Regions from separate parts of the Homo sapiens genome. Here region 1 is linked to region 2. The links come from fine-mapping of genetic effects on gene expression. A gene starts in region 2. The other region holds a variant in brackets. All regions are shown on one strand. Distances are from middle to middle. Region 1 overlaps LOC105370092. Region 2 holds the start of ZNF140 (zinc finger protein 140).

Evidence for each region.
Region 1: its variant is fine-mapped to the expression of ZNF140 in hypothalamus (GTEx, PIP 0.98).

Annotation. Positions count from the first base shown.
Region 1 is chr12:132,409,482-132,424,825 of GRCh38, reverse strand. LOC105370092 reads left to right here. Exons shown (of 4, transcript XM_047429966.1): 4 at 1-319. Among named protein-coding and RNA genes, the nearest start is that of MUC8, 57 kb to the left of the region's middle. RefSeq lists a silencer at 9,745-9,883. The variant A/G (reference allele first, on the strand shown) is at 9,012.
Region 2 is chr12:133,073,966-133,089,309 of GRCh38, reverse strand. It overlaps ZNF140 (zinc finger protein 140), which reads right to left and starts at 8,387. Exons shown (of 5, transcript NM_003440.4): 1 at 8,238-8,387; 2 at 7,981-8,037; 3 at 6,081-6,207; 4 at 5,749-5,844. The coding sequence starts at 7,989. RefSeq lists enhancers at 8,399-8,598, 8,669-9,358.

The sequences.
Region 1 (15,344 bases), 660 kb after region 2:
GGCAGGGTGGGCACAGCTCTGCCCTGCTGTGGAAGGAGTTGACGATCCCCCAGGGCCCTGTCCCCGAGGGAGGGCCTGGTCTCCTGAGCAGTGTCCTGGATCGGGGCTGGCGTGTGAGTAAAAGTGGGTCCAGCCCTCCCCACCCCAAGCTGGGAGAGGTGAGACCCCCACAGCCCACTAGGCGCCAGTGACTGATGGGCCCGCCACTGTCTTCACAGCCCCCAGAGTTCTCTGGTAATCACAGGCGTGGAACATGTGCCAGGAACCTTTGGTTTGCGTGTACCTTTAGATGCTCGGATTAAATTACACCCATAATGCATTATGTCATTGATAATAATATCACTGTGTATAAGACACGGCGTGGAAGGAGCCTGCTCCTGGACGGTTCATCCGTCTCTTCACACACAATTTCCATACGTGACTAAAGATCACCATTTTAACAGCCTTTGGTGCAGACACTGAGAGGCAGTTGCAGAGTTAACAGCGCATAAATCTCATTTCCTCTGCACTCCATTTTTCTCAGGCTGCAGAATCAATTTGAGTCTGTCAGGATTTTATTCCAAAGTCTATTAACGGCCCCCGCTTCCTTCTACTCCCCCGCCCACCGCCTTCCCCTTTCGTGAACTCAGTCCTGCAGAAAAAGACGCCTTGCTGATACAAAGTAACAGCCTTTTATCTCTTTACAACAAAATCTAACTAGGCGTGAAGGAGACGCAGCTGGGACAATTAGGCGAGGGTGGAGGTCACTGGCCTGGGGATCCCGCAGCCCAGGCCCTTGTGGGTCTGCAGCTGGGTCCTGGATGCGTAGCTCCCGCCCTGGGAAGGGAAACTGCTGGGCCTTTTCCGCGTGCCCCGCGGGCAGGAGGTGCTTTCTGGAGGGCAGCCCATGTTCTCTCTGTGGATCCAGTTGCCTCGCCCAGGGGAGGTCTCTGCTGTGACAGTAACTTAGAGGTGCAGCCGCCCTTCTGAGTCACGCACACATCAGGGTGAACCCCACAGCACCCGCTTGCTGGCCCCACTTCACAGGCGGGGAACCAGGCACAGAGAGGTTGAGTGATCTGCCCGAGGCCACACAGCACAGTGGCAGAGCTGGGGCCCGGTAATTCACTCTTCCTGTCGCCCTTTGTGAAAGTCCCGCCCTGTCCTGGGCACCGCACAATCCTTCCGGTCCCACGGGAGGCCCAGCCCCTGCTCCGCCTGCAGCCGCCACACCCCCTGCCCCTCTCCCTCCGCGGACCCCGTCCGCCCCGCCCTCCCGGGGCCGCTGCTCCCTGCCCTGGTCCGCCTTCTTCAGGGGAGGGGCGTGGCCACCCAGGCCCTGCCCAGTGTAACACCCAGCGCTGCTGATTGGCTCCCGTCTCGGCTCTGGGTCGCCTGGACACCGTGATTGGCTCAGTGATGAGCACGTGATCCAAGCTAGCCCAATGAAAGCCAGGCCTGGGATTTTGGCGGGGTTCGCAGGAGCAGGAGGGGAGAGTCTGCACCTGCAGGTGGTGCAGAGGCCCCTGGGGTCCCAGAGGGAGTGGAGCAGCCTGAGGCCGACAGGGCTGGGTCGGCAGGAGGGAGAGAGAGATGGAGATGGAGATAGACAGAGAGAGACAGGGACAGAGAAACAGAAGAGAGAGACAGAGAGACAGAGGGAGAGAGACACAGAGAGACAGAAGCAGATGGAGAGAGAGAGAGAGAGAGGCGGAGACGAAGATAGAGATAGAGAAACAGAGAGACGGGGACAGAGAAACAGGAGAGAGACAGAGATAGAGAGACAGGGAGAGACACACACAGAGAGACAGAAACAGATGGAGAGAGGCAGAGAGAGAGAGGCAGAGACAGAGATAGAGATTAAGAGACAGAGAGATACACAGAAAGACAGGGACAGAGAAACAAAGACAGAGTTAGACAGAGGGAGAGAGACACAGAGAGACAGAAGCAGATGGAGAGAGGCAAAGAGAGGCTGAGACAGAGATAGAGATAAAGAGAGAAAGACACAGGGACAGAGAAACAGAGAAGAGAGAGAGAGACGGAGAGAGAGAGAAGCAGATGGAGAGAGGCAAAGAGAGAGAGACAGAGACAGAGATAGAGATAAAGAGACAGGGACAGAGAAACAGAAGAGAAAGAGAGGCAGAAACAGATGGAAAGGGGCAGAGAGAGAGAGAGGCGGAGATGACTGTGCTCTGATGATGTTATCTGAGCCCTCTGTGAAATCTGAGGCGCCCAGATGCCTGTGTTTAAAAGTCCTTCATCCCCTTGTTTTCTGTGAGTTGGTTTCCATAACTTGCATCAGAAAGACCCTGACACACATTGGTGTGGGGTGGAACAGTTGCCAGTGGCAGCTCCTAGAGTGTGGACTGGCAGGTCAGGCCCCGGCAAGGATACCCGTCTGCAGGGGGAGCTGCCGCCCCTGGTCATGGAGTGGGAGGGTCTGGACCCTGGGCCAGCCAGGCTGAGCCGTCCAGCATCCTGCTGCTGCTCGCATTTCCCCAGGTGTTTCCAGGACCTCCTGCTCTTCCAGAACTGACTGTTGCCCATTGAGAGGTGGAGTCTGTTCCCCTCCCTGGAGCCTGACTGTGTGACTGTCTCAGTGGAGATGCCATGGGGCTTCCCAGGCCATGATCCGAAGGAGGAATGATGTCAGCCAGCCTCTGAGGTCTGTGCTTGTTCCTGAGCCTGTCGCAGTGGCCGGGTGTCCTAATTCCACGCCGACCCGTCCAGTCCTTCCCCTGGAATCGGTGTCTTCCCTCGACTTCCAGGCACCCCCCATCCCCTCCTTCTCACTGTCCTCCTGCTATGGGGCTGGTTGCTGTTGGTTCTCTCTCCTCCCTCCGCCTCCTGAGGGGGTGCCTTGGGACGCAGTGCCCACAGCCTCTCCTCTGCCTGATGCACACTCACCCCTGGCTTCTCATCCGGTCACAGGACCTGGTACCCACAGCCTCTCCTCTGTCTCTCCTCTGTGGATACCCCATCCACACTCATCCCCTGACATCTCATCCAGTCTCATGGCCTCCATGCCTATCCTCTCACTGCCCCGTCCACACTCACCCCCGGCATCTCACCCGGCCTCGTGGCTTCCATGCCTGTTCCTGCCTATTCTCTCACTGGCCTGGATGCCTCCTGTGGTTTGAGCCTCTCACACCCACCTGCCCGCTCCATGCCCTTCTGCGATGTCCAGTGGGCATCTCACATCCACAGGAGTTTCCTGTCTGGGGGGTCTCCTGGGGATTTTTGGGGATTCCCAGCCCCATTTCTAGCGTCCTCTCATCTGTTTCCTCTGATGTGGGTTAATGCATCTGCGGGACCTGTCTTAATGAATCGATGACGTTATCCCAAATTACCCATCTCAGCTGGGTGCAGGGGCTCACGCCTGTAATCCCAGCACTTTGGGAGGCCGAGGCGGGTGGATCACCTGAGGTCAGGAGTTCAAGACCAGCCTGGCCGACATGGTGAAACCCCGTCTCTACTAAAATTACAAAAAATTAGCTGGGCGTGGTGCCGGGTGCCTGTAATCCCAGAAACTCGGGAGGCTGAGGCAGGAGAATCGCTTGAACCCAGGAGGTGGAGGTTGCAGTGAGCCAAGATCGTGCCATTGCACTCCAGCTTGGGCGACAAGAGCGAAACTCTGTCTCTCTCTATATATATAAACTAAATTAGCAATCTCCCTTTGCATGGCAATGTTGACTCTGCTAATGGGATTTAAATAGTAAGTTGGACATTTTCTCCTTCAATATTTTGCACCATTGATTTGCTTCAAAGTCTTTTCTCACAGTCATCACAAAGGCAAACACCAACATTGGCCAGGCCCCGAAATCATAAAGCCCAATTGACGAGATGTTGGTCCACTCTGAACTCACCACTGGCCAGGACACAGCCAAGCATCGGAAGGAAGTAGCTATGTGCCTGACCGGTCACCTGACGCAGCCTCTTCTGCAGCCTGAACTTGACCCAGCTGTGTGAGGCAGAGTGTGGCAACATTTGAGATGCTGGATCAACTCTTACCTGACGCACTGGAACATTTTGATTATGGGGCAAGACCAGCCTGGGCAACACAGTGAGATCCCATCTCCAAACAACAACAACAACAAAACAATTGATTCCTTTTTTAAAATAACATTTTAGACCCAGCACGGTGGCTCATGCCTGTAATCCCAGCACTTTGGGAGGCTGAGGTGGGTGGATCACTTGAGGTCAAGAGTTTGAGACCAACCTGGCCAACGTGGCGAAACCCCGTCTCTACTAAAAATACAAATTAGCCGGGCGTGGTGGTGGCCACCTGTAATCCCAGCTACTCGGGAGGCTGAGGCAGGAGGATTGCTTCAACCTGGGAGACAGAGGTTGCAGTGAGCTGAGATCACGCCACTGCACTCCAGCCTGGGCAACAGAGTGAGACTCCGTCTCAAAAAAAAAAAAATTTGTTGAGTTGAATGTGGCTTCCAATTATGAGGGTGTTTCTAGGTTTTGCAACCAAACAAATAATCCCTGATAGAGACCATTGAATAGTCTTTCAAGAGCATGTATATGGGTTATACATTTATTCCCAGCCTTTATGCTGTTATTCATACTTACCATGCATCACGTTTCCTCTGTGGCTAATTTTCTTTACCTTAAAATGCAGCTTTTTTAAAAATTTCACTTCTTTCCACACATCTGCAGCTGAAATAGCTCTAACAATGCCCCGTTGATACCACTTCTCCGCTTCTTGGTCATGGGAACATGCATCTCTTAACTCCGGCTTTGCTTTTTGTGCTTTGGTGAATTAACCGGCCTGAATGCGCTCAGCCAGCCAGCGGTCCAAAACCCGATGGCTGTTCCGCCTTCACAAAAGGATTGTCAGGCAACACGTGTTACCGTGACTGACCACGGCAAGATTCAGGAACAGGTGAAAGCTTTCTGTTTTCCTTCCCTTTCATCCATAAAGGAGGGTCTTTGCCAATTTAGCTCCTGGAACATTTCCGATTAAAAAAATTAGGAAGCTGGATCAGGAAGAATAGAGCCTTCACGAAACGGAGTGTGTGGGCGGCAGAGGGCTGGGAGGGCACAGCCAGACGCCAAGTCATCTACAGAAAACATCTGGACGGGGAGGCAGAGAGAAGAAAGCTGCCCTGTGGGTTCAGGCTGGAGAATGGATTTCAGGGTTTGAGGTGCGAGAGGGCTCAGAGCATCTCCCTGGGGCAAGAAAATTGAGTGGAGGAAGGAAGGAAAAGGTTAGAGGGCAGCTCGGAGTTACCCCCCTTTCAGTTTGCAGGTAAAATGAGGGGCCCATTGAAAGTTATCATGTGGCAGCTGAATTATGCCTTTTTTTTTTTTTTTTTTTTTTAGACAGAGTCTCCATCTGTCGCCCAGGCTGGAGTGCAGTGGTGCGATCTTGGCTCACTGCAACCTCTGCCTTCTGGGTTCAAGCAATTCTCCTGCCTCAGCCTCCTGAGTAGCTGGGATTACAGGCTCCCGCCACCACGCCTGGCTAATTTTTTGTATTTTTAGAAGAGATGAGGTTCCACCATGCTGGCCAGGCTGGTCTCAACCTTGTGATCCACCTGCCTCCGCCTCCCAAAGTGCTGGCATTACAGGCGTGAGCCACCGCGTCCGGCCCTGAATTATGCCTTTTTGAAGGGATCTCAGCAGGCACTGAATGCTGCAGGGTCCAGAGTTTATTTGGGTAACTTTACATCAACAAGACAATATATTTGGAGAAATTCACAACCACCGTCACACTTACTCAGCTCTCAGGCTGCAGAGGGTATGGAGGAGGAGCCTCTGACCTCTGAGCCCCTCGGTGTTTCTTCCCTGTTTCTCTTTTGTGGACTGTTGGAGAGACACCCCCTCCCCACGGAACTCCCTTCCCCAGGGCCCACTTCATGGAACAGAGCTTCTCAACACTCAACATGCAGCAAACCACTGCGGGTATTGTTAGAATAAAGATTCTCCACCAAGAGGTCTAGAGGAGCCCTGGATTCTGCCTGCCTTTCCTTCCTTCCTTCCTTCCTTCCTTCCTTCCTTCCTTTCCTTCCTTTTTTCCTTTCCTTCCTTCCTTCTTTCTTTTCTTTCTTTCTTTCTCTCTTTCTTCTTCCTTCCTTCCATCTTTCTTTCTTTCCCTTTCTTTCTCTCTTTCTCTCTCCTTCTTTCTTTCCTTCCTTCTTTCTTCTCTTTCTTTCTCTCTTTCTCTCTCCTTCCTTCCTTCCTTCTTCTCTTTCTTTCTTTCTTTTTCAGACAGGGTCTTGCTGTGTTGCCCAGGCTGGAGTGCACTGGTGCAATCACAGCTGACAGCAGCCTTGACCTGATCGCTTCAACGATCCTCCCACCTCAGCCTCCCAAGTAGCTGGGACTACAGGCACGTGCCACCACACCTGGCTAGTCATTTATTTTTTGTAGAGATAGGGTTTGACTATGTTGCCCAGGCTGGTCTTGAACTCTTGGGCTCAAGCAATCCTCCCACCTCAGCCTCCCAAAGGGCTGGGATTACAGGTGTGGGCCACCGCACCTGTAATCTTTTTTGATTTTAGATATTTGACTTGTACTTATTCAGTTAAGCATCCCTCATCTGAAAATCCACTCTGAAATGCAAACTCTTCCAATGGGCATTTCATGCATTTCATCCGAGCTCATGCCAGTACGCAAAAAGTTTCAGATTCCGGAGCGTTCTGATTTTGGATTTTTGCAGGAGGGATGCTCTGCCTGTAAGTGCCAGGCAGCCTTCCAGCTGCTGGGGAAGTAGCTGGAAACCAGAGGACAAGTCCCACTGCCTCAGATCCCTGTGGGGACAGAGTAGATGGGAAGCAAAGGTGTGCACGAGACCACGCCAGACACACGGATCGCACGGAGCGAGATCTGGCCGCATGGAGAGCCAGGAGGAGCAGGCGGGGAAGGGCCTGGCGGTGGGAGAGCTCCAAGTGTCTGCAGCAGAGCAGGTGGTGCAGCCACGGCCGGGGCAGCACAGTGAGAGGCCAGAGGGGAAGCTGGGCCGGTCCCGCAGGCTCTGCAGGCCCTGGCTCGGGCTTTCACCTGCAAGCAGGAAGGTGCTGTGGGTCTAAGCACATGAGGTGTTGGTTTCAGCTCCAGCTGGGCAGGAGGCTGGGCCGTGGGAGGAGGGGACAGGCAGGGGACAGGCAGGAGGCTGGGGCGGTGCTGAAATCTGTACCCATTGGCTTTGCCATGCTTCCCACAGAGCTGGGTCCGGCCGTTCCTGACTTTGTGGACCGTGGAGGGGTGACACTGTGGGCTTAGTCCCGCGGCCGGCTCTTGAAAGGCCCAAGGCCTCTGCCTGGTTCTTGGAGCCACTGCACTGCAGGGGTGGCCACTGCCTGAGGATTCTGACCCCGGGACCACTGTGTGGGGGACCTTGGGGAGACCCCCACCAAGCCAGGGAGTGCCCAGCCAGCAACTGGGCCAGTGGTTTCCCACGTCCGGCCCAGTCACCCTCATAGGACACAGCCCTGGCCAGCGGCACAACACGAGAGACCCCAGTGAGGACCCCCCAGCCAGGCCCCCTGAGTCCCTGACCCCAGCACTGTGAACAACGTAGTGGAGGTGTCATTTCAAGCTATTGGCTGTGCTGGGACAGAGGACCCTGATGCAGAGACCGGGACGGTGGCTGGACCACCGTGGGGCTGGGTGGGTGGGAGGCGTTTGGCTTCAGCGTGTGGTCTTGGCAGAGGTAGGTGGGATCTGTCCGTTTCTACCTCCTGCCCACCAGGCCTGGTTCCAGGTTGGTGGCATGGCCACGGCGGGACTCGGGGCCCCGCTGAGCTACTGGTCAGCCTTGGCTGAGAACCCCCTGCCCTGCCTCTTTGGGGCTGCCGCCAGCAAGGGGGTGGGGGGCTCCATGCGGACCCCTGGGTGTTGGGGGCTGGCAGGGGTGGGCCAAGGCAGTAGCACTAGGCAGCAAGGGAGCGTCAGGGCCCCGGGCTATAATCCCTCAGGGGCCATTCTGCGCCCTCTGGCCTTGACCCCCGGGGTGTGGGGCCCTTCCCACACTGGGTGCTGCCGGCCATCAGTCTTTTTAGAGGCCTCTCCTGCTGTAGGAGCCCACTGTGGGGTGGGGAGGGAGGACCCTCTGCTGCCCCCCTCCCTCTAGGGATGAGGTCTAAACTCCAGAGACCTGACCGGGCCCCCTCCCTTCCTCTCTCGGCCTGAGCTCTCCTTCCTCAGGGTCTGCTGGATTTGAGTGGGGGTCTCAGGCTGGGGGCACTGGCTGCGTCTGTGGCCTGTTGTCCAGCAGAAGGCTCTGTCCGGGATCGGGAAGTGGCAACGCGTTCCTCAAACCACAGACAGTCGTGTTTCCAGAGACGGCTGCCGCCGTGTCCCCACGTGCTCCTCCAAACCTCAGAACCCGGGACCTGCACCCCTCCCCACATCTGGAGATGGCCCCTGCCCTGGCTCGAAGCTGGGTGGGCTGTGGCTCACCTGTAACCAAGAATCCTTCTCACTCGCGAGGATGGGGTGGGCTGTTACTAAGTTCCAGGTGGCTCGTTAGGCAGCCGGGAGCCGGGACACTCGGATCCCCCGGGCATGGGGGCCTCTCTGGGAGGCCAGGACAGAGTTGCTGACCAGGTTTCCAGGGCTCTGGGGCCAGGCTGCTAGGGCGGTCCTGCCTGGGAAGGCCACCCACCTGCCCCGAGCTGGCCTTAATCATTAGGCTGGCCTGACGTCCTTTTAGAGAACAGCTCAAGCCGTGCTGGGAGCCAGTCAGCGGCGGTCATGAGAGCAGCCATTTGCACTTGGCAAACTTGGAGTGGCGCAATGAATACGTCCTCTCCTTGAAAAGGCCAGGGCACCTCACTGAGCTCTGGCCTTGGGTCAAATATAACTTAAGCTGCAGAAAAGGGAAAACGATGGGAAGTGAGTCTATTTTCTTCTCTGGACACTCCTGCCTGGTCCCCAGAGACGCCACCGTGACCAGGTTCTCACATGTGACAGCCCTGCAGCCCCGTCCTCCAGTGGGGTGGGAGCCGTGCCCTCCCCAGCCTGGCTGTGGCCGTGACTTTGGGAGAGGGTCCCGGGTGTGTGTTTGCTACAGTGAGGGC[A/G]AGGGGCCCCTGACTTCCTGGGGGAGGGGACATCCTTCACCAGAGGCCACCACAGCCGACCTTCCGCACTGTCCTTGCAGGGGCCTGGTGGGGAGCCTGGACAAATGGCCGTGTCACCCTCTGCAGCCTGAGGATGGGGCGGCAGCTCCGCCGGCCCCAGGACACTTGCCAGGACCCCAGGGCACGGGAGACGGAGCTGGTGGTGTGGCTCATCCGAGAGGGAGCTGCTGCCTCAGGGCTATGGGACGGGACACCCTTGGCAGAGGGTGGAGAGGTGCAGGGCCAGGAGAGCACCAGGAGTCTGTACCCGTAGAGCTGGGGAAGCACTTTGGGCAGGGACAGATCCTGAGGCGGTTCTCAGGCAGAGGCCTAGCTGCCGGGGTGGGGAGGGGGGTACACCTGGGACCGGGCTTCTCCAGCTGGGGTCCCTCAACAGCAGCATCCACGTCACCTGGGAGCACGTCAGGAATGCAGACTCCCTGGCCCCACCAGCCTTGAGCCAGCCTCGGGGAGCCCCATGCCAGGTGTAGAGACCCCGACCATGCCAGGTGTGTGTGGGGGCATCCTCGGGCCCCTGGGGCTGAGTGACTCTGCCAGGGGCCGTGGGCGGAGCCGCAGCGCTGCCTGAGAGCTCGGGGCCCACCCTGCTCCTGGATTCTGCCCCAGTTCCGGATCCCAGGGCTCCTGGCGACGGCTCTGGCACAGAGCGGAGCAAGAGAGACCCCTAGTGGCCAGAGGGTCAGTCCCGTCCTCCAGCCACCAGGACGGGCACCACGCCCTTCCCAGAACTGTCCCTGTGCCAGGGGTGCAGGTGCCGAGGCCCAGGCCCTTCTCTCTGCTGGAGGAGAAATCACAGAGACTCAACCTCAGGGAAACTGGGTCCTGGCCCCAGACCCACGGGGGCCCCGGGTTGTGCATGGCGGCCGTGAAACGAGGGGAGAGCCTCACCCACGCCTGGTCGGGGGTGCTCCACAGCTCCCTGGGGTGGGGCAGGGCTCCCCAGACCCCGGGCCTCCTCCCGGCTCCCACAGCCTCTGCCCTGCCCTGCGTGCGACCCGGGCCTAGGTGGGGTCTGCCTCCTGCCTGGGTCTCCAGGGGCTCTGTGACCTGCTGTTCCCTGCACGCCGGCACCTTCAAGCCCCAGAACACACCTTCTCCTGGAAGCTGTCACCTGCTCTGTACGCCGGGACAGGCCTGCAGGGCGGGACCCCAGCTACTGGCCTTCCCCCGAAGGTGGCTGGATTTCAACACTCGCTCCCACTTCCGAAGCCAGAGCGTGGAGCCCAGAAACAGCGGCTTGCAGAGGGATGGACCACCGCAGCCTGGACGGAGGCCCCAGACCCTCCACTCCACTGTGGTCGCTGGAGGAGCCCCCGGTTGAGGGATAGTGTAGAAACCTCAGCCAGTGTCCTTCGAAATCACCGAGCACGGGGCGGCAGCTGGGACAGGGTGTGGCGGGTCCCGGGCTGCAGGGAGGGCCCTTGGGGGAAGCGCCTTGGTGGGGGGAGACCCTGAGGTCTTCCCGGGAGCTGAGGTGGGAACACTGGAGGGGCCTCCGGGGCGCCTGCCGCAGGAGGACGTCCAGGTGCGTGGACGCAGAGACTCCCGTGGGCTGGGGTCGCGGTTCTGAGCTGCAGGACCCCAGGTACCCACTAGAGGGTAGCAGCGCTCTGTGGCCCTGGACCACCGACCACAGCCCACTCCGGAGAGCAGGGCCAGGACGGGGCAGGAGCTGGGTTACCCTCCGGAGTCAGCAAGGGTGGGCAGGCAGCCCCTCACCAGCCTCTTAGGCTCCTGATACCTGACAGGACTGGCAAGAAGGCCGCCAGGACGACCTGCCGTACCCTCAGCGCCCGGCACAGACAGGGCTGTGGTCTCTGGGCCAGAAACCCCAGGTCCTGGTGCTGGAGCCCAGCTTGTCTTCTGGGAACCTCCTGCTGCTCTGGAACCTCAACGTCCTAAAACAGCCCAGGCAGCTCTGCAGGACAGCCTACAGTGGTTAACATGGCACCCCCAGACCCCCACTGACACCCCAGACCCCCACTGACACCTCAGACCCCCACTGACACCCCCAGGCCCCCACTGACACCCCAGACCCCACTGACACCCCAGGCCCCACTGACAACCCCAGGCCCCCACTGACACCCCAGGCCCCACTGACACCCCAGACCCCACTGATATCCCAGGCCCCACTGACATCCCAGGCCCCACTGACACCCCAGACCCCACTGATATCCCAGGCCCCACTGACATCCCAGGCCCCACTGACATCCCAGGCCCCCACTGACATCCCAGGCCCCACTGACATCCCAGGCCCCCACTGACACCCCAGGCCCCACTGACACCCCAGGCCCCACTGACATCCCAGGCCCCACTGACATCCCAGGCCCCCACTGACACCCCCAGACCCCCACTGACACCTCAGATCCCACTGACATCCCAGGCCCCACTGACACCCCAGGCCCCACTGACACCCCAGGCCCCCACTGACACCCCAGACCCCACTGACATCCCAGGCCCCACTGACACCCCAGGCCCCACTGACACCCCAGACCCCACTGACATCCCAGGCCCCCACTGACATCCCAGACCCCACTGACATCCCAGACCCCACTGACACCCCAGGCCCCACTGACACCCCAGGCCCCACTGACATCCCAGGCCCCCACTGACATCCCAGGCCCCACTGACATCCCAGGCCCCCACTGACACCCCAGGCCCCACTGACACCCCAGGCCCCACTGACATCCCAGGCCCCACTGACATCCCAGGCCCCCACTGACACCCCCAGACCCCCACTGACACCTCAGATCCCACTGACATCCTAGGCCCCACTGACACCCCAGGCCCCACTGACACCCCAGGCCCCCACTGACACCCCAGACCCCACTGACATCCCAGGCCCCACTGACACCCCAGGCCCCACTGACACCCCAGACCCCACTGACATCCCAGGCCCCCACTGACATCCCAGACCCCACTGACATCCCAGACCCCACTGACACCCCAGATCCCACTGACACCCCAGGCCCCACTGACACCCCAGACCCCACTGACACCCCAGACCCCACTGACATCCCAGACCCCACTGACACCCCAGACCCCACTGACACCCCAGATCCCACTGACACCCCAGACCCCACTGACACCCCAGATCCCACTGACACCTCAGACCCCACTGACACCCCAGATCCCACTGACACCCCAGACCCCACTGACACCCCAGACCCCACTGACATCCCAGGCCCCCACTGACATCCCAGACCCCACTGACACCCCAGGCCCCACTGACACCCCAGGCCCCACTGACATCCCAGGCCCCACTGACACCCCAGATCCCACTGACACCCCAGGCCCCACTGACACCCCAGACCCCACTGACACCCCAGACCCCACTGACACCCCAGATCCCACTGACACCTCAGACCCCACTGACACCCCAGATCCCACTGACACCTCAGACCCCACTGACACCCCAGATCCCACTGACACCCCAGACCCCACTGACATCCCAGACCCCACTGACACCCCAGACCCCACTGACACCCCAGGCCCCACTGACATCCCAGGCCCCCACTGACACCCCAGACCCCAGTCGGACACCCATGCACCCCTTGACTGACACCCTCAGACCCCCAGCCAGACACCCCCAGACCCTGTGGCCCACATCCCAGACCCCCTGGCCCCCAGACTCCCCAGCAGGAAACCTCAGACCCCCTGGCCGACACCGCAGACCCCCTTGCCCACACCCCTAGCCTTCTTGGCTGTCACCCCCAGACCCTGTGACCCCCGGCTGGACTCCCCCAGATCCCATAGCCAATACCCCAGACCCTCTGGTCAGTGGAACTGACTGGCCAAGCCCTGTCCGAGGAGGCAGTTCCTCCCAAGCTGCTCCTTTCCACAGTCAGGGCCGGCCAGGGCAGAGCCTGGCGTCCACATCCCTCCTCCACTCACCACACAGGCCGTGGGGCAGCACTTCAGTTTTGTTTGTGATTAAATGAAGCTGCCTTTTGAAAAATGCTGGCTCTTCACCGTCTAGGCAGCAAATTATCTTAAAGTGGATGTTCTTTGTTCTGGGAAGTCACTTGATTTGCTGAGTGTGCGTGTGCCTGTGTGTGCGCACCTGCATGTGTGTGTGTGAGCCTGTGTGTGTGTGAGCCTGTGTGTGTGTGTGGGTGTGTGGGCCTGTGTGTGTGCGCATGTGTGTGTGCATGTGTGTGTGTGGGCCTGTGTGTGTGTGAGTGCCTGTGTGTGTGTCTGTGTGTGCCTATGTGTGTGGGGGCCTGTGTGTGTGTGTGGGCCTGTGTGTGCACGTGTGTGTGTGTGGGGGGGGGCTGTGTGTGTGTGCGTGTGTGTGTGCATGTGTGTGTGTGTGGGCCTGTGTGTGTGTGCGCGTGTGTGTGTGTGGGCCTGTGTGTGTGCATGTGTGTGTGTGGGTGCCCGTGTGTGTGTGGGGGGCTGTGTGTGCACGTGTGCACGGGTGCGTGTGGGCCTGTGTTGTGTGTGTGTGTGGGTGCCCGTGTATGTGTGGGGGGGAGGTGTGTGTGTGCACATGTGCACGGGTGCATGTGGGCCTGTGTTGTGTGTGTGTGGGGTTCTAGACCCTGGTTACGTGCTAGAACCACCCGACAGCTTTGAGAAGTACAAAGCCCTGCACCGCCACCCCAGAGGTGCTCCCTGAACTGGTCACAGGGGCCTGGATCAGCCCTTCTAGACCCCCCAGGGGGTCCACCCTGCAGCCCTGGGAGGACGACAGGCCCAGGGAGGAGTGGCCTGTACTGCCCGGGGGTGGGAGGAAGCAGGATGCCTTGGGGGTGACCCAAGGCCCCCCTGCGGACCGAGGGCCAGGCCAGGTCCCTCTAAGGCTGGGGTGTGGTGTGGCCGCCTCCTCCCAGGCTCCTCGGTGGACAAGAGTTCGGTTCCCATCCCTGCCTCCGCGGCTCTAGAGCTCGATCCCACGCTCTAGGTGGTGAGAAATCCCAACTCAGTCATTGCTGGGGTTTCCTTTCTCTACGGCTTGAATCACATCCCCCAAAAAGGTCCTTTGCCATCCTCACCCCCGTTCCTCCACACGTGGCTTCACGGGGACAGAGCTGCTGCCGAAGTAACTGGCTCCGGAGTGGAGCGTAGACCAGTGTGACCCTGTCCTGACATCAGGATTTGGACAGATGTGCTCACAGGGAGGATGCTGGGGGAAGGCGAAGGTGTTGACCAGCCTGGGAGCGGCAGACACGGGCCCTGGACGATTCTCCCTCAGGGCCTCAAAGCACCCGGCCCTGCAGAGGCCCCACCCTCGGCTCCCAGCTCCAGGTCTGCAGGATTAGTCCGTGTTAAGGCGGCTTCTGAGGGGCTGTGATGGCGGCCCCGGGACGCACGTGGCTGGGCTCCTGTCGCCCTGAGCTGGGGAGGGGATAGGGTGAGACTCTGGGGCGTCCATCAAGGAGGGTGAGGGGGGCTTGGCAGTGTCTCCCGCCTCCGTGCTGTCCTGGGCTCGGTGTGCGGGCCCCAAAGCCTCATTTTCTGCACTACACACGCATCCTCTCTGGGTGCCTCCCCGAGCCCCCATGTACCACCCGCCACGTGCACGCAGCTGAGCATCCCCTCTGGTTGACGGTTCCTTGCCCATCCTCTCCTCTCACCCTGGTGTGGATGGTGAGCTCCGGGGGTTCAGGGGTCACCACGGAGGTGGGGTGTGGGCGTCCCCTTGGTGGCCGGGCTTAGTTTGGCGCCTGCCTCGGCGCCCGCGTCTCCCACACACGTGGCCGGACCTTGTTCGTGACACCACACAGATGTCCGTGGCCTTCCCGGCTCCGCTCCCTGTTTTGGCCAATCCGTGTGAGGCACCAGAGCCTCAGGTGATTCCAGCAGAGGCAGGTGTGTGGCGGTTACGGAGGCCACCCGGCAGCCAGATGTTCTGCCGTCACCCACAGGACGGTGGCAGCTCTGGGTTCCATCCCTGAGCCGGGCAGGTGGAGCAATGGAGCTGCGCCGTCCTCCTCTCTCGGGGCAGCGCTGCTGGGACTTGGCCACACTCCTGCCAGGGACCCCGGGCTCCCTCCATCTGACTGACCTTTGCCCTCCAGGGCCTGGAAAGCCAGGGTGGAGATGGCACCGCGGCTCTCTGCGTTCTGCTGCTGAGGGGGTTTGGGGGCACAGGTCCCCACTGACTCGGACGCCCAAATCCCAGGGAGAAATCGATCCTGTGTCCAGGACCCAGCAGGAGGAGCGGATCAGGGCTGGCCCCACAGCTCCCATCCCCCGGGCCTGCCCCTACCTCTCCCGCCCAGAAGCCCCCCACAGGCTGCAGCAAAGGCAGGGCCTGCTCCCGGCCCC
Region 2 (15,344 bases):
CCGGGGGAAGTTGAGGCTGCAGTGAGCCATGATTGCACCACTGCACTCCAGCCTTGACAACAGAGTGAGACCCTGCCTCGAAAAAAAAAAAAATCAAATGAATAATTAATAACTTTCAAAAATGAAAGCATCAGGATTCACTGGTAAATTCTACCAAACATTTAAGGAAGAAATTATACCAATCCCCTCAATCTCTTCCAGACGACAGAAACGGAGGGAAAACTTCCCCACTCATTCTATGAGGCCAGCACTGACCTAGTATCAAAACCAAAGGAATTATAAGAAAAGAAAATGACAGGCCAGTATCTCTCATGAACATAAATGTAAAAATTCTCAACAAAATACTAGTAAATTTAATCCAACAATGTATAAAGGGAATTATACTCCATGCCCAAGTGGAATTTATCCCAGGTATACAGGGCTGGTTCAACATTTGAAAATCAATTAATGTAAAATATAATCCATCACATCAACAGGCTAAAGAAGTAAAATCACATAATATCAATAGAAGCAATAAAAGCATTAGCAAAATCCAACAACCAATCGTGATAAAAAAATAAAATCACATGATAATATCAATCATTCATTGCTGACGGGAATGCAAAATGGTACAATCACTTTGGAAGACATTTTGGCAGTTACTTACAAAACTAAATATATTCTTACCATATGACCCAGCAGTCACACTCCTTGGTATTTACCCAAATGAAATGAAAACTTATGCCCATACAAAAACCTGCACACAGATGTGCTTTATTCAAAATTGTCAAAACTTTGGAAGCAACCACAATGTCCTTAAGTAGGTGAACATATAAGTAAACTGCAGTACATGCAGACAATGGAATATTATTCAGTGCTAAAAAGAAAGAGCTATCAAGCCATGAAAAGACATGTAACTAAAATGCATATTACTATGTATTAGTATGTGAAAGAAGCCATTTTGAAAAGGTTAATTCCAACTCTCTGACATTCTGGAACAGGCAAAACTATGGAGACAGTAACAAAAATCAGCGGATGCCAAGGGTTGGGAATGGGTGATTAGGCAGAACACAGAGAATTTTTAGTGCAGTGAAATTATTCTATAAACAATAATGGTATTTGCAGGAAAAAATCTAGAAAGATTTAGAGCCTTCCTTCCTTCCTCCCTTCTTTCTTCCTTCCTTTTTCTTTCTTTTTTTTTTTTAGACAGAGTCTTGCTGTCGCCCAGGCCGGAGTGCAATGGCATGATCTCAACTTACTGCACCCTCTGCCTCCTGGGCTCCAGCGATTCTTCCACCTCAGCCTCCCGAGTAGCTGGGATTACAGGCGCACACCACCACACCCGGCTAATTTTTGTATTTTTAGTAGAGACGGGTTTCACCATGTTGGCCAAGCTGGTCTTGAACTCCTGACCTCAGGTGATCTGCCCACCTCGGCCTCCCAAAGTGCTGGGATTACAGGTGTGAGCCACCACACTCAGCCGTATTATTTGTATAATAAAGATAAAGAGATATAAATATACAAATTGACTAGCATTCCTATAGAGAAGCAATATAGAAAAGAAACTGGGGAAAGTTGCTTAAGAAGAAATAACAGGTATGCAACAATTCTACAAAGAAAATTCAAAATTTTAAGAAGCTGTGCAGGTAACTCCTAAATGTCTACTTTAGTTCAGCATCAGCATCATCTGGTCATTTGTTAGAAATGCAAATTCTGGCTGGTCTGAATGCAGTGGAGTTTATAAGTCATTGATAACAACTAGTTATAGATTTCTTTGTTTCTCCTCCACTCCCGCTTTTTTTTTTTGACTAGCCAAAAAAAGAAAGAAATGCAAATTATTTGGTTCCACCCCAAACCTACCAATTTAGAATTTCCAGGGTGGGGCCTAGGAATATGCATTTGAAGCCTCTTGACTATGATACTCAATTGCCTACTGGATTTATATATTCGTATCCCACAGAGACCCAAACTCAACAAGTCTCAATATAATCTTCCCTCCCCTACAAACTTGCTGATCCTTTTTTTTTTAACTAAGGAAACAATCATACCACCAAAAAGACTAATGTCAACCACGACTTCTCAGTCTTCTTCATGTCTGTCATCTAGCCAATCGCCAGGTCCTTTTGAGTCTACTTCTTCACTTTATTTCCAATCTGTCTACCTCCCTTAGCTCCCTGGATGCCTACATAGTTCAGGTAATGATTAGATCTACACTAGGTTGCAGCAACAACTCTTAAATGGTAGCCCTGTTTACTTAAAATAATTCAGAGAAAAAAAGGGGCAGGGGTAAGACAAATACAATAAAATGTTAATCATTAAATCTGTAACTAAGGCTGTATAGATTTGAGCAAAGAGAAAAATGAAAGAGAATTGAGAACCTAGAAACATACAAACACAAAAATTGACATTTAACTAATTTCAAAACAGTGAGGAAAATGGTTGATCTATCAATAAATGGTACTATGATAACTGGATCTCCATACAGAAGATAGCAAAGTTGACTACTAACTCACATGACAAAATAAAGTGAACGATGGATCGAAATGTGAATGGCAAAATAAGTAGGCTTTTTTAAAAGAAAATATAGGAAGATGTCTTCATCATAATCTCTTAGGAGGGAAAGATTTCTTAAACAGGCTAAAAAAATACTAAACATAAAAGAAAAGATTGATACATCTGACTACACTAAAATTAAGAATTTCTGTTCATCAAAAGAAGCTATGAAGGTTAAAAAAAAGCCACATGTGAAAGATTTTGAAGTACATACAATTAGCAAAGGATTTCTATCTAAAATATATAACTTCTACAAATCAATAAAAGAATCCAATAGATACAAGAGAAAAATCTTCAAGATTCACTTCGCAGATGGGGATACCTAGATGTTCAATAAACATACGAAAAGGTGCTCAACTTTATTAATGGCCTGACAAATGCAAGTTTAAACCACAAGCTACCACTGCACACCCTTCTGATAGATGAAAATTACGATGCCCAACAGGCATTCACTTATTGGGTTTGCGGGAGTATAAGTCAGTCAAGGGTCTTTGGAAAACATTTTGGCATTATCTAATAACATAAAGAGGTGCATTATCCTCCAACTTGGCAATTCCAGTCCTAGATATAAACCACAGAGAAACTTGTGCCAATATGTATCAGGATACATGCACAGTAACAGCATTGCTTGCAGTATCTCTAAATGTGCAAAAAACTTAAGAAGCCCTCAATAGTAGAACGAATAAATTGTGGTATACTTATCGTACAATGAAAAAAACTATTAGAGCAATTACGTTAAAAATTCTTTTAACTTTTAAAAAAATAGGGTCTTGCTGTATTGCCCAGGCTGGAGTGCAGTGGCACAATCATAGTTCACTGCAGCCTGAAACTCCTAGGCTCAAGTGGTTCTCTTACCTCAACCTCTCAAGTAGCTAGGACTATGGGCACATGCCACCATGCCTAGCTAGCTTTTAAAATTTTTTTGTGGAGACAGGGTCTCTCTATGTTGCCCAGGCTTGTCTTCAACTCCTGGCCTCAAGTGATTCTCCCAACTCAGCCTCCCAAAGTATTGGAATTATAGGCATGAGCCACCATGCACAGCCAAAAACATTTTAAAAATAATTTTGAGAAGCAAATCAATAAATACATTATAAATCTTTCTATATAAAGTTAACAAACACATGAACCTCAACTATAGTGAACACAAATGCAAAGAGCTGATGGAACAATAAAGAAAACCAAGGAAGCTACTTTACCATAAAAGCAAAGAGATGATTAGCTTTATTGGAGGGTTAGGATGAGCACACAGAAGGCTCTCAAGGAACCTAGCAGTATTGTGTTTATTGACCTTGGTCACGTGACTGTTTGCCTTATAATAATTTATTAAGCTGTACATGTATGTTCATGCATTACTTCTGTCTGTGTGTGATATTTCACAATGAAAAAAATTTTCAAAATAAGATCCTGGAAGGAATACATAAAAACTTCAAGAACTGTGTTAAAGTAGTAGAATTAGGCCAGGCACAGTGGCTCACACCTGTAATCCCAGCACTTTGGGAGGCCTAGGCGGGCAGATCACTAGGTTAGGAGTTTGAGACCAGCCTGGCCAACATGGTGAAACCCCATCTCTACTAAAAATACAAAACTTAGCCAGGCATGGTGGCAGGTGCCTGTAGTCCCAGTTACTCAGGGGGCTGAAGCAGCAGAATCACTTGAACCCAGACAGCGGAGGTTGCAGTAAGCTGAGATCGCGCCATCGCACTCCAGCCTAGGGGGCAAGAGCGAGACTTCGTCTCAAAAAAAAAAAAAAAGTAGTAGAATTAGAGGCAACTTCCATGTTTTCCTTTTTCCTCACTTCCTTTGTACATGCTTTTATCAGTTTTGTTATTTTTTAATTCAAAAAGGACATTTTTCCTCATTTGCTCCCACTAAACAAAGTTTCCCTGCACCTGTTCCATCTCACTGCTTCAGCCCACATTAGTACCTCCTTTGCAAATCCTTCTGGACATTCTCCTAAGGGACTCCGCAGCATTTCATATGAACCACTACTCTTCCTTAAAGCTACAGCTCAGTTTTCATGACATCTGTTTCATCAGTCCTAAGCTGCTGCCTCCTAAAAAGTACGCATTCCTCCTTTTCTCTCTAAAAATCAGTGTACCTCCATTAAACATGTGCTATAGAAGCAACTATAGAATTTACAGAACTTACAGAATTCATCACCTTTTCTCCAAAACTGACCCTTTTTCTGTCTTTTGTTTCTCTAGTACTATCTGCATCCAAATTACCCAAGCCTAAAACGACAACTGGAAATTCCTTTTTTCACTGCTGTACTGCTAATTTGAGGATATCTAATGCAAGCTATTTAGACACATCACTAGGCCATGAATTCCTTGATAGTTATTACACTTTTGCACACTCTCTAGTCTCTGTAGCACTTAATAGAAAGTCTTGAGAAAGATTTGACAAGATTAAAATTTCTGTAAATATTAAGAGTGTATGTGAAGGAATAAATAAATATCAATTAATCAAAGAGTAATGAATTAATCTTTTCAAGGTGATTAAATAGAACAGCAAAATATGTACTTTTAATTTTTTTTTTCTTTCTCAGGTTGAATTCAGGCAATAGAAATGTATGTCCATTTGAAGAAAGAAAGGAAAGAAAAAACAAAAAGAAATGAAATTCAGAGACCAGACAGAACTAACAATGGGAACAAAAAAGACACCTGTGAGAAAGAAAAGAAAGTATAAGGTGAGAACTGGTCGACTATGTCAGCTGTTAGGTAATATAGAAAAAACAGAATTGGGTATGAAGTAGTGTTTTATGGAGTTGTAAGTGAAACTTCAGTCTTTATACCTCTGGTATCTTTTTTTTTTTTTTGAGATGGAGTCTTGCTCTGTCTCCCAGGCTGCAGTGCAGTGGCGCAATCTCGACTCACTGCAAGCTCTGCCTCCCGGGTTCACGCCATGCTCCTGCCTCAGCCTCCCAAGTAGCTGGGACTACAGGCACCCGCCACCAAGCCCGGCAAATTTTTTTGTATTTTTAGCAGAGATGGGGTGTCACCGTGTTAGCCAGGATGGTCTCGATCTCCTGACGTCGTGATCCACCCACCTCGGCCTCCCAAAGTGCTGGGATTACCGGCATGAGCCACCGTGCCTAGCGTATCTCTAGTATCTTTAAGGGAAAATTTTCCAATCAACATATTAAAAAGTATTCCTTTTTCATTGACTAATTGAGTGGTTTTAAAAAATTTCCCCATCAGCTTCCAACTCACTCACCTGAAAACAGATCTCTTTTCACTTCCCTTTTCCCCAGCCAGGGTTCTTTCCCTTGCTCCAATAAGGAAACCACATCTGGCTTAGAAATGGAAAGACCTGCTTGCAGAAAATGAAATAAATTCAAGATCAGTCATTGAATCCTAAGAGGGGCCACAAAGGAAATGTCAGATGTAAGTTTTTAAAATGTCTAAAAATAAGGTGCAGTTACGTCCCCATCTTAAAACTAATTTTAAGAAACCCCATACCTCTCTTGGGAATATTCAGCCAGATAATTATAACAGCCACCCTAACGGTCAAATTTTGCCTTGAGGGAGATGAAGAAGAATACTTACCCAGTGAGACCAGATGGCCATAGTTCTCCAACATTACACATCTGTACAAATCTCTTTGAGCAGGCTGAAGCCATTTCCACTCCTCCTGGGAGAAGTCTATGGCCACATCTCTGAATGTCACTGACCCCTGAAATGACGGACAGATATTTGCATGACCAGCACGCATGCCCCCAAACTCCCTCATCAAGGAATAAAATGAGTCTCACTGTGGAGGTTAGGCAATGTGTCTAAGTAGTAACAGTGAGAGTTTTCAGAATTCTGAGTAATTATATAATGAAGAGCCTAGCTCTTGTGTTTTGTTGTATAACTGGAGAAAAGGAGAAAAACATAAATTATCTGTCCTGAGATAATTTACAATTTTATTCAAAATAAAGGATTATACACATGAACAATATGGATTTTTGGCATTGGTTGTAAAAATTCTTAAGATTTTACAGTATTCCTTTATGTTAATAAACAATGTATATTTTCCTTAATACCAGCCTATTTTAATATAATTCAGCCAGAATTTCTTCAGGGTAATAATTCGCTACAGCAGATAACAGCACCACCCTTCAAATGGGGCATACAGTCTCAAGTTTGTCACAGTTATCCCTAATCCTAAAGAAATACCTGTGAAACTTAGTGGTAATTTTAGCAATGTCACAGAACAAGGAGGATAAGCAATAAAGAATCTTGATTCCGCAAGAAGAGAATGTAATACCTCCCAGGACAGAACCTAAAGCACTTTCCCTCAGAGTTAGGGGGAATAATATATAAGCCCTTGCTTTGCAGCCTGGTTTTGCACCACTTGAGTGATCCACATTGATCTATAAGGCATGAATGGGAATTTAAAATGTCTCAAACTAGTAGCAGTCCCAGATGGATGGCAGTTATAATTTACAGTTTTGAAGTTTAATAAAAAAGTGATTAAAGACTGTTGACTAATAAAGCAGCTGTTTCCTACACAGCAAGATCTGCAGCAGAGGTGGAAATTGGATTCCCCAGCAAAACTCAGAGAACCTCTGAATTTGGAGAGAAGTATGACAAAAAGTAGGATAAAGAAGTGGAACTGAAATGAGGGACTCATTTTGAATAGTTGACCCTGTTATCCCCACTGCTGTGAAGCACAATTACCAGCCAAGCCCTTAGGCCAAATCAAAATAAAAATGTGTTCCTTATGTCATGTCTGAAAAATGAGCTCTGAGGATTCGGAGATTTTGTTTTGGTCACTTCTGCATCCTCAAGACTTAGAATGAGTTGCACATTAGAATCACTTGGAAGGACTGTTAGACTGCTGGGCCAAATTCTCAGTTTCTGATTCAGAAGGTCTGGGGTAGGACTCAAGAATATTCATTTCTAATACGTTCTCAGATGATGCTGATACTGCTGGTCCAAGGATCACACTGTGGGAACCACTGAAAGTAGAGGTTCAGTAAAAACATATTGAATAAATGAATAAAGGGGCGCTGGAGTAACGTAAAGCACTCCTCATTCTAACACTGTGGGAAAGAGGAGGCGATGTAACAGCTGGCACCCTACCCTCTCACCCTAAAACATGCCAGCCAGGTCAGAAACCCCGCCCACATCTGGATAGCTTCCTGTCACTCTCTTCATGTATACTTAAGTATAAGCACCTGAAAAGGAGGAACAAGGGACAGGGTCCTGGGGTTCTGCCAGGCAGGTGGTTGTAGGAGAAAGAAAGCCACGTCCCAAGTCCTGAAAAACACGGCTGCACTTCACAAAGAAAAGCGGAAACAGGCCAAGTGGGTTGGCTCACTTGAGGCCAAGAGTTTGAGGTTACAGGATGCTATGATCGCTCCACTGCCTGGGCGACAGGAGGAGACCCTGTCTCTCTCTTAAAAAAAAAATAAAAATTTATATATATATATATATATATATTTATCAATCATTAGCTTACCTGAGACATAGCTCACAGAAGGGAAGGAGGAGATCAGAAAAGTGTAAAATGGCAGACCTGGCAGAGAGAGAAAGGAGCCCTGAGCGAACAGGCCAGCTAGGCCGCGCCCAAGTCACTAGATTCCCGCACTGGGGATTCCCGTGGCCCCCGCTCCGCGCCTCCCACGTAGAGAGCAGGGCGCCCTGAGAGATCGCGCTTGGACCACTGGCGCCGGCTTTCTCTTCCTGCCACGGCGCGCCTCCCCAGAACCCCCTCACCTAACAGTGGCCACAGAAGGATGCGTTTCCGTGGTGCTTTCCGCCAGGTGGGCGTAGCGTTCCAGGGCTCCGGACCGAGTCACCGCCCGGGGCCATCCGGCGCAGACCGGGAGGGCTCCTTTCGTTGCCTACAGCCAACACAGGCCAGACGCTCGGCGCCGCCCCCCAGGGCCCCTCCGCGGGCGTCGCAGGAATTGCGTCTTCAGAAGCCTCGCCGACGTCACCCCAACCAGGCCGCCGGCCTCAAGAAACTACAATTCCCAGAAACCAATGCGGCCCTGCGCGCAAGGGCTTTTCGTTCCTACTGGAACTCCCAGAGCGCCTCGCTGCCGTGCCCAGAACGCCAGGAGACAAAGAACGAGGGCCTGCGACAACTACAATTCCCAGAGCCATCGCGGCCCGGTGCGCCAGAGCATAGGGGCTATCCTCCCACGCCCAGAGCCGAGAAACAAAGAACCCGGGTCCTAGGCAACTACATTTCCCAGAAATAACCGCGGCCCCCCGCGGAAGAGTACACAGACCTTTGTGTTCCTATAACTGCCAGAGTGTCTCGCGGCCAAGCGCACAACTAGCGGAGAAACGAAGAACGTGGAACTCAGGCCACCACACTTCCCAGAAACAACCGCGACCCCGCGCGAGAGAGCATATGGCTTTCCCCGCCCCACTGCAACTCCCAGGGTGCTTTGAGGCCAAGCGCACATCATCGAAAGACAAAGAACACGAGCTTCAGGCAACTACACTTCCCAGAACCTCTAGCGACCGTGCGCAAAAGAGCGGAGGACGTTCTTCCCCTACTACGACTCCCAGAGTGCATCGTGGCCACGCCCAAAGCCGGAAGACAACGCAGAGCTCTGGCGACTACATTCCCCCAAACTCCTGCGCCGCACGCCAGAGGGTATAGGGTTTTCCTCCCCTACTACGACTCCCACAGTGCTTCGCTGGCGTGCACACACGGCCCAGAGACAAGGAACTGGAGACTCAGGTGACTACACTTCCCAGAACACACCGCGGCCCAGCAAGAGCCCAAGACCGCCTCTATTAAACAACTAGGATTCTTAACAACGACTGTGGAGTCAGTACTTCAGTCTAAGACCTTTTGCTACTGGAAAGGGGTCCGGATCTCAGACTCTAAGAGAGGGTTCTTGGATCTTGCACAAGAAAGAATTTGAGGCGAATCCATAAGGTGAAAGCAAGTTTATTAGGAAAGTAAAGGAATAAAGAATGGCTAATCCATAGGCAGGGCAGCCCCGAGGGCTGCTGGTTGCGCATTTTTGTGGTTATTTCTTGATGATATGCTAAACAAGGGGTGGATTATTCATGCATCCTCTTTTTAGACCATATAGGGTAACTTCCTGACGTTGCCATAGCCACTGGTGGGCAGTGAGGACAATCAGGTCGTTCTCATCGCTATCTCGGTTTTAGTCGGCTTCTTTACTGCAACCTGTTTTATCAGCAAGGTCTTTATGACCTGTATCTTGTGCCAGCCTCATGTCTCATCCTGTGACTACGAATGCCTTAACCTCCAGGGAATGCTGCCCAGCAGGTCTCAGCCTTATTTTAACCAGCCCCTACTCAAGATAGAGTTGCCCTGGTTCAACCGCCTCTGACAGTGGAAGACGTAGCAATGAGGACAGCCAGAAGTCACTCTCATTGCCATCTTGGTTTTGGTGGGTTTTAGCCGGCTTCTTTACTGTAAACTTTTATCAGCAAGGTCTTTATGACCTGTGTCTCATGCTGACCTGCTGTCTCATACTGTGAGTTAGAATGCCTAACGGTCTTGGAACGCAGCCCAGTATGCCTCAGCCTTATTTTACCCAGTTCTTATTTAAGATGGAGTTGCCGGGTGCTGTGGCTCATGCCTGTAATCCCAGCACTTTGGGAGGCTAAGGCGGGCAGATCACCTGAGGTCAGGAGTTTGCAATCAGCCTGGCCAACAGGCCAGAGTGTAACCTCGTCTCTACTAAAAATACAAAAATTACCTGGGCATGGTGGTGGGTGCCTGTATTCCCAGCTACTTGGGAAGCTGAGGCAGGAGAATCACTTGAACCTGGGAGGTGGAGCTTGCAGTGAGCCAAGTTGGCGCTACTGCACTCCAGCCTGGGCGACAGAGTGAGGCTCCATCTCAAAAAATAAAAATAAAAAAAAAATACAGGCCGGGCGTGGTGGCTCACGCATGTAATCCCAGCACTTTGGGAGACTGTGGCCAGCGAATCACAAGGTCAGAAGTTTGAGACCAGCCTGACAAACATGGTGAAACCCCATCTCTACTAAAAATACAAAAACTAGCTGGGCGTGGTGGTGCACGCCTATAATCCCAGCTACTCCGGAGGCTGAGACAGGAGAATTGCTTGAACCTGGGAGGCGAAGGTTGTAGTGAGCTGAGATCGCGCTATTGCACTCCAGCCTGGGCGAAAGAGCGAGACTGTGTCAAAAAAAAAAAAAGAGCAAAACAACAACAACAAATAAAATAAAAAACAAGATGGAGTTGCTCTGATTCAAGCACCCCTGATGCTTTGGCTTCGTATAACTGTAATAACCAGAATCCTTGCAACGCTCCCAGGTCACCTTGAAACAGTGGTCTCAGAGGATGTGACTCCGAGTCCCTCGTGGCCTTATGGAGCGGCCCAGTCTCTACTTGGTACCGGCACAGCCATGGCTTCTCCCTCTGGGATTCCCCCAGCCTCGAGCAGTCTCTGAGCAGTCTCATGTTACCTGAGAAGGAACGCTGGAGCGGCCCTGGTTTTTCATGTGCTCCAGCTCGAGCCCTCCCCCAGAAGCCTTCTGGAAAGAGGCGCTGGATTGCACCTACAGGGGCTGGACGCCCAGTGACCTGGGGGCGCCTCTACTCCCAGCATTGTGTGGGGCACTGTCCTGGGCACGTAGGAGAGGTTTTGGGGAAGCAAGCCAGTCACATCCCTGTGCTTGAAGAGCACCAACTGTATGCTGAAATACGAGGTTAGGGAAGAGTCAACCCACTGAATCAAAGGAGTATTGTTCCAGATCGAGAGAACAGTTTATGAAAAAGAGAGACAAAAAAGAAAAAGCCCATTATACAAAATGGAAGAGGGCAAAAAAAGAGGAAATTCACTGGCCTGGTGAAAAGACATGAGACTGAAAAAAAAGTCCTTGTGAAGGAGCTTGGATGTCGCTCAGTAAGCTAGGAAGACACATTAAAATTCGAAGGAGGATGTGCGTAATCATATTTGCATTCCACAGCCTGTGTTCATGGTGAACTGAAGGGAAGAAGGCCACTAGGGGCAATAGTTAAATGTTCTGGAAACTAATCTGAACTGTTGCAGAGAATGGATTGAGGGGAATGAGTTAAGAAACAATTTAAGGCCAGGCGTGGTGGCTCACGCTTGTAATCCCAGCACTTTGGGAGGCTGAGGTGGGCGGATCACGAGGTCAGGAGTTCGAGACCAGCTTGGCCAACACAGTGAAACCCAATCTCTACTAAAAATACAAAAATCAGCTGGGCGTGGTGGCGCGCGCCTGTAATCCCAGCTACTCAGGAGGCTGAGGCAGGAGAATCGCTTGAACTCAGGAGGCGGAGGTTGCAGTGAGCCGAGATCATACCATTGCACTCCAGCCTGGGTGACAGAGCTAGACTCTGTCTCAAAAAAAAAAAAAACCATTTAAAGGGAGAATCTAAAGGACTGGGTGATGAATTGGATATCATCCAATTAGATGGAAGGGAAGGAAGAGCTAAGTTTCTTGTTTGGGTGATATGTTCACAGAATTTCCTTCTTTAAAGACTCTTATACCACAGCCTGTCCACTCTTCCGGTTTCAGCTTCCAGTTAGGCTACAGATGACTCACCCAGATCTCATAGCTATTTTGTTTCACTGAGATGATGAACCCAGGAAAAGAAACAAGTTCGGAAGAGAAGAAAATTAATTGGGGGACATGTAGAGAATGATGTGTGTGTGTTTAACTTTATTAATATTGTCCAAATTATCCTTTCTAACCTGGAATCTTGCCAAAGATTTCACTTCATTTCCCCACATCTTTTCTTCACACCGAAGTCAGCCTGATTTTTATAAAGCAATTCTGCTCATATTCTTCTGCTTAACATAACTTGATGACTTTTAATTGTTCTTAAGTAAAGGCAAAAGTCCTTACCATGGTCCACTGGCTGCAGGATCTTACTCCCATCTTTTCAAGCTTTTCTTACATGACTTTCCTCCTCTCTAACTGCACTTTGTTTCCTCAAATGTCACGTGTCTAAGGATCTTTGAGCACGTTAATTCCGTCTGAAAAAAAGGTGACTATCCCTTCACACCATAACCTCATTAGTTCATTTCAGGTCATCCTTTAGATTTCAGCCCAAGCAAGTCTTGCTCAAAGAAATGTTCTTTGATCCCATTATAATCAGTAAGGTCCCAGTGATTACACCCTAGACTTACTCTCTTTAGCATTTACTTAATTTGCAATTATGTTTGTAATTATGTACTTACATTCGTGTGATTATTATGTTAGTGATTACATCACTAGACTGTAAGCACTATGAGTCTAGACACCATTTTGTTCATCACTGTACCCATAATGACTACTATGCTACTTGGTGCTCAGTGAATATTTATTGACTGAAGGAATGACACATATTATCAAATTTTAACTTTATCATATTGTAAGGTAAAGTGATATCGTGTTTTAATTTACTTTTTATGATAATATGAAACTGATCATTGACTAGTGTCTATCTTCTTTCATAGCAAAGGCTATGAAACATTATTTTGCTATGAATCACTTTTCTATTAGGAGTCCTATGTTTTTATTATTAATTTGTAGAAGCTCTTTGCATAGTGGGATTTTATGCCTTTTGTATATATGTTGCAAGTACAGTATATTCTCACAAGTCATTACTTATATTTTCCCTTGTATATAGTGAGGCTGTGTGCTATAAGCTTTTTTAAAAAATTTTGTTTCTCTAGACAGAGTCTCATTCCATCACTCAGGCTGGAGTGCAGTGGTGCGATCTCAGTTCACTGCACCTTCCACCTTCCTAGGTCCAAGTGATTTGCATGCCTCCGATTCCCAAGTAGCTGAGACTACCGGCACACGCCACCACACCTGACTAATTTTTTTTCTTTTTTTAAGTGGAGTTTCACTCTTGTTGCCCAGGCTGGAGTGCAATGGTGCGATCTCAGCTCACTGCAACCTCCTCCTCCTGGGTTTCAGCGATTCTCCTGCCTCAGCCTCCCAAGTAGCTAAAATTACAGGCACCTGCCACCAGGCCCAGCTAATTTTTTGTATTTACAGTAGAGAAGGGGTTTCACCATGTTGGCCAGGCTGGTCTTGAACTCCTGACCTAAGCTGATCTGCCCACCTTGACCTCCCAATGTGCTGGGATTACAGGTGTGAGCCACTGCGCCCAGCCTGTGCTATAAGTTTTTACGTAGTCAAATCTAAAAGTCTTTTCCTTTCTGGCTTTTGAATTTCTCTTGTTTAAAAAGGGTATTCATATACCAATTTTTAAAATATTTCCTACACTCTTAATTTTCCTTGTATTTGGGTCTCTTTCTGGATCTTCTATTTTGTTACATGGATCTTGTTGCCTATTTCTGTGCCAATATTATATGGTCTTAATTACTGTAGCTTTCTGGTAAGGCACATCCTCTCTTACTCTTTCTTTTCTAATTTTCTAGACTATCTATCTTATGTGTTTTCCCCTGTAGATAAATTTTATTTTTTATTATTTATTTACTGAGACGGAGTCTCACTCTGTCACCAGGCTGGAGTGCAGTGGCGCGATCTTGGCTCACTGCAATCTCTGCCTCCTGGGTTCAAGCGATTCTCCTGCCTCAGCCTCCTGAGTAGCTGGGACTACAAGCGCCCACCACCACACCCAGCTAATGTTTGTATTTTTAGTAGAGACAGGGTTTCACCATGTTGGCCAGGATGGTCTCAAACTCCTGAAATTTTATTTATTTATTTATTTATTTCGAGACCAGGCCTCACTCCATCACCTAGGCTGGAGTACAGTGGTGCAATCATGGCTCACTGCAAACTCTACCTCCTGGGCTCAAGCAATCCTCCAGCCTCGGCTTCCCAACGTGCTGGGATTACTGGCATGAGCTATCACACCTGGCTGTAGATAAATTTTAAAATAATCTTGCCAAACTCCTTTAGCAAAATTTATTTGAAATTCCATTGTGATTATATTCAGTGTTAAGAGAGAAACAATATATTCCCTATGTGGTAACAACAATTTGAATGACGGTAGCTTTGTCATCTGAAACCACGGAGGCCAGAGGGAGGTGGCACATTTTCCAAGTGCTTGAAAGATTTGTCAACCTCTAATTCTATATCTACCAAAAATACCTTTCAGGAATTAAGAAGAAATAAAAGCATTTCAGATGAAGCAAAATAATAATTGGTTGACTGCCCTTCAAGACTGACTCACAGAGCATCTCTGACTGAAAAGGTAATAGGCTGGAACTTCGAAAAGACAGAAAAAACTGTGGAGTGGGTTAAAATTGGGGTAAATGTAACAGACTACCTTTCTCGTGAGTTTTTAAAATCATGCTCAATGGTTGAAGCAAAAATTTTAACATCATCTGATGTGAGACTTAAATGTATATAGAGGAAAGACTTAAGACAATTATAGTAAAGAGTGAAAGGGCCAGGTGCAGTGGCTCACACCTGCAATCCCAGCACTTTGGGAGGCTGAGGTGGGAGGCTTGCTTGGGGCCAGGAGTTTGAGACCAGCCTGGGCAACATAGTGAGACCCTGTCTCTAACAGCAAGAAGAAGAGTAAAGGGACCTAAATGGAAGAGAGGTTTTTACACTTTAGTCAAAGTTGTAACATATCAATACCTGTAGATTGTGACATTAGGCATATATATCATACTACCTATTGAAACCACAAAGCTATATTCAAAAATACTTTCAATAGCTAAAAACTGGAATTCTAAAATAAGTTCAAGTAGCCCACAGGAAAGCAAGAAAATGGAAAAACAGTAATAAGCAGAAGGAAGAAACAGAAAATAAAAAATAGAAGTCCCACATAATGCTTATGTATAAAAAATAAAAGTCCCACATAACGCTTATGTATAAAAAATAAAAGTCCCACATAATGCTTATGTATAAAAATAGGAAACACAC